Linked DNA regions of Homo sapiens. The protein of the gene in region 2 purifies or fractionates together with the protein of the main gene of each other region. This does not show direct contact. Each region holds a gene or a part of one and is shown on either strand. Other genes may lie near its edges.

Region 1 (3,500 bases), on a different chromosome or scaffold from region 2:
CTTTTAATGGGAAAAAATCTAAAAGTCCATCATAGAAGAATGATTAGTAAATTGTGATGTACTTACACACTGGAATACTACCATACAGTTGATAAAATGAATGTAGTTGACCCACATCTGTCGACATGGATAAATCTAGAAAATATAGTGTTAAATTTTAAAATGTAAGTTATAGCATGCTATATACAGCATGGTGTCATTTATATAAAGTTCAAAACCTGAAAAACAATACTTTATAAGGTTATAGTTAGTAAATAATGTAATAAAAATATTTTAAAATGCTTGAGAGTAAACACCGAATTTGTGGTAATGAATACTTCTGAGGAGAGAGAGAAGGAACTAAGACCAGAAAGGGTCCCCACTGTATCTATAATGTTATATTGCTTTATTTTAAAAGATATAAAGCAAAATTGACATAATATTATGTTTTAATAAAGCTGGTAGTTTTTTTTGTATTTCATTTTATGGGCATATGTTTTAGTCTGTTCTTATCTAAGGTATATTTAAAATGCTTTCTCATTTAAAACCTCCAGTACTTTTTTTTTTTTTCCTTGAGACAGAGTCTCTCTGTCTCCCAGGCTGGAGTGCAGTGGCTCGGTCTTGTCTCACTGCAACCTCCGCCTCCCAGGTTCAAGTGATTCTCCTGCCTCAGCTTCCCAAGTAGCTGGGATTACAGGCACCTGTCACCACGCCCAGCTAATTTTTGTATTTTTAGTAGAGATGGGGTTTCGCCATGTTGGCCAGTCTGGTCTTGAACACCTGACCTCAAGTTATCCACCTGCCTCAGCCTCCCAAAGTGCTGGAATTATAGGCATGAGCCACCGTACCTGGCCAAAACCTCCAATACTTTTTAAACCATTATAGATCCCCCAAAATAATACTGGTATGTACAAACTCAACTTAGTGATAAAGAGATGGAAATATCTCCATCTATCACTCAGGACTGTCCATAAACAAGGGAGGCAAAGAGCCCAACCTGAACAAAATGGTGATGTTCATTAAGCTGGTCCTCAGCCTGCCTCTTGCTGGTATACTTGCCTGTCTTTAAAAACTTGAACTCTATCCTGTCAATCCAGGGAAGGATCTCATTTCATTCATTTTAATTATCATCACTTTAGTTATATGGTTGCTTTACTTTTCTTATGGACATTAGAAAATAAAAGTGAATAGACAAGATATATTTCATATGATATAAAGACATATTTCATATGCTATAAAGAGACAAGCCAGTACTTATCTGGAGCCTACCAATTAAGATAAATTCTTTTAAATATTTAGTCTTAAAAACAGAAATTATTTTAAAATTATGAATTGGCTAATTTTTTCCAAGTAAGTGCATTTTCATGTTCACCTGCTTTGTATTTAATATAAATTATTGTGTTGAGGCCCCATTAACAGCCACAAGTTTTTAGTCAACTTCAAAAATTTCTACTCAACTCTTATCTGTAATCCATTTAGATTTGTATCTCTTCCCATCAATCATGAATACATAAGGTAATATTTTATAGTTGGAAAGCATTGCTTAATATATTGAATCAATAAAAATGTTGATTTCATATATTTAATTTTTATAATCTTTACAGATTACAATACTGTGATGAGACTGTTCCTGTAACTTTTGATCCACACACAGAATTTCTTGGTCCTCAGAAGAAAACAGAACAAGTCCAAAGAGACATTGGATTTTGGTGTCCAAGGCATCTTAAGACTTCTGGGGGACAAGGATATAAGTTTCTGGGAATTGACCAGTGTGCGCCTCCATGCCCCAACATGTATTTTAAAAGTGATGAGCTAGAGTTTGCAAAAAGTTTTATTGGAACAGTTTCAATATTTTGTCTTTGTGCAACTCTGTTCACATTCCTTACTTTTTTAATTGATGTTAGAAGATTCAGATACCCAGAGAGACCAATTATATATTACTCTGTCTGTTACAGCATTGTATCTCTTATGTACTTCATTGGATTTTTGCTAGGCGATAGCACAGCCTGCAATAAGGCAGATGAGAAGCTAGAACTTGGTGACACTGTTGTCCTAGGCTCTCAAAATAAGGCTTGCACCGTTTTGTTCATGCTTTTGTATTTTTTCACAATGGCTGGCACTGTGTGGTGGGTGATTCTTACCATTACTTGGTTCTTAGCTGCAGGAAGAAAATGGAGTTGTGAAGCCATCGAGCAAAAAGCAGTGTGGTTTCATGCTGTTGCATGGGGAACACCAGGTTTCCTGACTGTTATGCTTCTTGCTATGAACAAAGTTGAAGGAGACAACATTAGTGGAGTTTGCTTTGTTGGCCTTTATGACCTGGATGCTTCTCGCTACTTTGTACTCTTGCCACTGTGCCTTTGTGTGTTTGTTGGGCTCTCTCTTCTTTTAGCTGGCATTATTTCCTTAAATCATGTTCGACAAGTCATACAACATGATGGCCGGAACCAAGAAAAACTAAAGAAATTTATGATTCGAATTGGAGTCTTCAGCGGCTTGTATCTTGTGCCATTAGTGACACTTCTCGGATGTTACGTCTATGAGCAAGTGAACAGGATTACCTGGGAGATAACTTGGGTCTCTGATCATTGTCGTCAGTACCATATCCCATGTCCTTATCAGGTAAAAGCTATCACTTGGATTATGTCTCTATTTACATTTAATGTAGAAAATGTTTCATGGAAATATACTTGTCATGGATGTAAAAGTTGATTTCAGGTGAGAAAATACAAGAGCCATAGGTAAGGATTTCCTATACATCAACTGAAACTGGGATGAATGTTTCATGACTTCCTTCCTCAAGCTTTAGCTTCAGTTGTATAGTAAAGCACTTCCTTTATTCTCTGAAAAATTAAATTGAGCTGCAAAGGCAGATTAATAGCAATAAAGAGCAGAGTCAGAAGAACAGACCTTGACATTGGGAGAAAAACAGAAGTCACTTTTGTCGCATTGGCAATTATTTTTAATTTTTTAGTTAGTAGTAAAAAATCTTATTTGGATATATTTAATTTGATCATATTATCTTATAGCTTTTTACATAGTATATACTTACAAAAACAGAATTTGCTTTTTGCCTGACTCATCTGTCATTTCTCAATTGAAAAAAACACAGTTGTAACAAAATATGCTTTATCTATTTCTGATTCTTATGATTAGTATAAGGGTGGTGTTTTTAAAATTAATAAAAGTAAATTTCTGAAAATATAAAATTTCTTAAAGCATTTTAGTTGAAGTTTTGTAAATAGAAATTTGGTTTTGTTTTAGTAGATTTTAGACATTATTCCTGACTCTGTGCGGTATTAACTGCATTGAACATGAGCACTGCCATCACAGTGTATCAAATTAAGCAATGGGAATGTCAAACTATTTCATATAATAGCTTATATTTCAGAAAGTTACTGCTTTATAACATTGTGGAATCTATTTTTTATGTTGGTATGTGGGGATACTAGTTTTACTTGCCTTATACGTTGTCCATAATCTATTATCCATAGTTTGTTTTTACTATATACTTAATAAGA
Region 2 (2,850 bases):
CTTTGAAGAGACAGCTTCTCCAGTGTCATCTCAAGAAAGAGGGGACTGTGAGAACCTGGCCTGCTCACTTTATGGAGAGAAGCTAAGATAGGCGTGGGCCTTCCTGTGACACAGGCCTGAATGCAGGTAGCCTCAGAGAGCACTGGTCTCTGAGACTCCAGGAGGAGGAGACTCCAGGAGGCCTGCGTGCGTTCAGATGCTTGACTTTGCTTCCTTGGGCCCTGCCTCCTTTTCCCTCCCCACAGCCTTCCCCTGTGTCTCCTGAACCTCTTCTTGCTTTCATGACTGAGTAGTTCAGGCTCTGCCTTCCCCACAAAACCCTTCCAGGGCCACCCTAGTGAACTGCGGGGCCCTATCCCTGTGCCTCAGCTCAGTTTGTTGTCTTCTGTTCACCTGTGTGTGTCCCATTAGACTGAGAGGAACAAGTGCCGAAGGCAGGGACAAGGTGTGGAGTACAGATCCCCAATGATGGGATGGAGGCTGGGTAGAAGAGGGAGGCGTTTGGGTGACAGCCTTGTTCTTGGTAAGCTAGAAGTAGGATGTTTTCTCGCTGGGGGCAGTTTCTCTGACAGCAGGCACCGGAAGCTGTCTGAGGCGTCAGTTCCAAGAACCTCAGTTTCTTTCTTGCAAGGCCTCTGAGTCCATCAGAGACTGAGCCCAGTGCCCTGAGGTGGGCAAGGCCCCTGCCCAAGATAGGAGGGTGCTCAGGTTGTTGGGCCACAGCTGAATCCTCCGTGTCTGAAGCCTAGTGCCATCAAGGACTGGACCTGTGGGGCACAGGACAGCTTGCAGCTACACTCTATGCCAAGGGCTTCCCAGAGAAGGCCGACCCAGGTGGCCAAGGGCCAGGGCCCAATTGCCCACCCCCAGCCAAGTGCCCCAGAGAAGAAGGTGAAGACCCTGACCTGCGCTGGGTTGTAGTGGGGAAGGAAGAGGACAGTCGCACCCAGACACTGCTTCTGAGAAGCTCACAGGCCAGCAGGGGAAGCCCTTTCACAGCTGTTGCCACCAGTGCAGGAACGTGGTGCTGCCTCCTAAGAAGGGGCAGGGCAGGGGCTGGGGAGCACAGTGAAAGGAACCATGGACTGTGCCCTTGGCCTGGGGAAGGTGGTGGTGGCCCTGCAGGGGAAGCTGGAGGATGTTAGGAGAGAGCATGAAGGCTCAGGGGCTGAGCGCTGTAGCCTGCTGCCTTGGGAAACACTCTGGTAGGCTTCTACTTTTCAGAAGGCCTGGCTCTCTGCTTCCTGCTCTCCCCTTCCCAGAGACTCATGAGTTCTCACATTTAAGAAGTCCTCTTTCCGTCTATCCTTAGTGGAGGTGTGAGCAGAGACTGGATTGGCGTCCCCAGGAAGCTGTATAAGCCAGGTGCTAAGGAGCCCCGCTGCGTGTGTGTGAGAACCACCGGCCCCCCTAGTGGCCAGATGCCGGACAACCCTCCACACAGAAATCGTGGGGACCTGGACCACCCAAACTTGGCAGAGTACACAGGCTGCCCACCGCTAGCCATCACATGCTCCTTTCCACTCTAAGCCGTAGCCTCTTCTGTTAATAACACACAGAGAGCTCTGCCAAGCACCTGAGTAGGCCCTTGACACTTGTGTGCCCTGGGATGCCTCCTGGCGCGAATCAGGAGGGTCTGGAAGGACTCTGGCTATATTCTGCAAATGTGGCTCATGCCCCTTACCGTGGCTCGGCGTTGTGGTGCCTGAGGGACAGCCGGCCACCTGCCCAGTACTGGTCAGCTTTTCAACACTATTCCCTTTGACCTACTGGCCATCTTCCTCACAGCCCTCAGATATCAACGGGCACAAATAAGACCAACTCAATTTCCACTTGAATTTACAACCAAAAGCCTGCTGAGTTGATTACAGCTGGGCCAATACAGTACGAGGCAATAACAAATTAGTGTGGGTTGATTCTGGAATTGGAAAAGCTTTTGCTTGTATGGATACAGCAAATCCAGATGTCTCTGAACAAAGCAACAATTTAAAGCAACGACATTTTCTGTCCTTTAAGCACTTAAAATCAGGTGTGGTGTGTTTTCAAAGGCAGAAGTCTGCATTTTGAGCAAAAGGTGGCTTCCCAGCTCTAACAAGGTAACTGGTTAGCATGACATTAAAGCTTGGGCAAGGCTTCAAACTTAAGGTGGCTGGGCTTGCTGCTTGTCCAGTGGTTTGTATGTCCAGCGTCATCTGGCAATGTCATACCTGTTACCTCTTGACTACTTGTGAAGGTAGATGGGGGCAAGGAGTGTTCCTACTTCAGACAGAGAAGTGGGACCAGCACTACCACAGACAGCGCCACGGCCTCTGTGCATCGCCTCATCAGAGCTTCCACCCAGCTCCCTTTGCCGCTCAGTCTCACCCTCAACATCCACCAGCTTCCTCCCTCTCTGTCACTGTCTCCTTTTTCTCCATCATTCATTTCACTAAATCGCTTTCCAGATTCACAGACTAGAAAATGGAGGCTGCCTCCCCTTCACTGGCAGACCCGTACTCACTGCCCCTGTCCCCTTCACTGGCAGACCCGTGCTCACTGCCCCTGTCCCCTCACTGGCAGACCCGTGCTCACTGCCCCTGTCCCCTCACTGGCAGACCCGGGCTTATTGCCCCTATGGCCACAGCTGTTCCTTACACTTGGGCTCTGGCTCATGGCTCCTTTTGCCTGCCCCCGCCATCCTCCTCACCTGCCCCTCTTGTACCTTTAACCTCTCCCCGTCTCCTGGATCTTCCCCCAGGTATGCATCAAACAGCTCACTTCTCTCACATCATAAACATTCCCTCAACTCCAGTTTTGGCTTATACTCACTAGCTTTGCTTTTCAGCTCCATTTGCTCTAAAAATCAGGAGA

What was found. The genes of interacting proteins can lie anywhere in the genome.
Region 1: the proteins of CYB5D2 (region 2) and FZD6 purify together in Homo sapiens (co-immunoprecipitation; one large-scale study listed by IntAct). This does not show direct contact.

What each region holds. Positions count from the first base shown.
Region 1 is NC_000008.11:103,322,898-103,326,397, forward strand, and holds part of FZD6 (frizzled-6 isoform a precursor), read left to right. Parts: intron 1-1,583; coding exon 1,584-2,601; intron 2,602-3,500. UniProt on the Homo sapiens protein: Receptor for Wnt proteins.
Region 2 is NC_000017.11:4,155,554-4,158,403, forward strand, and holds the end of CYB5D2 (neuferricin isoform 1 precursor), read left to right. Parts: intron 1-393; exon of another isoform or gene 394-640; intron 641-1,312; coding exon 1,313-1,529; 3' UTR 1,530-2,144; downstream 2,145-2,850. UniProt on the Homo sapiens protein: Heme-binding protein which promotes neuronal but not astrocyte differentiation.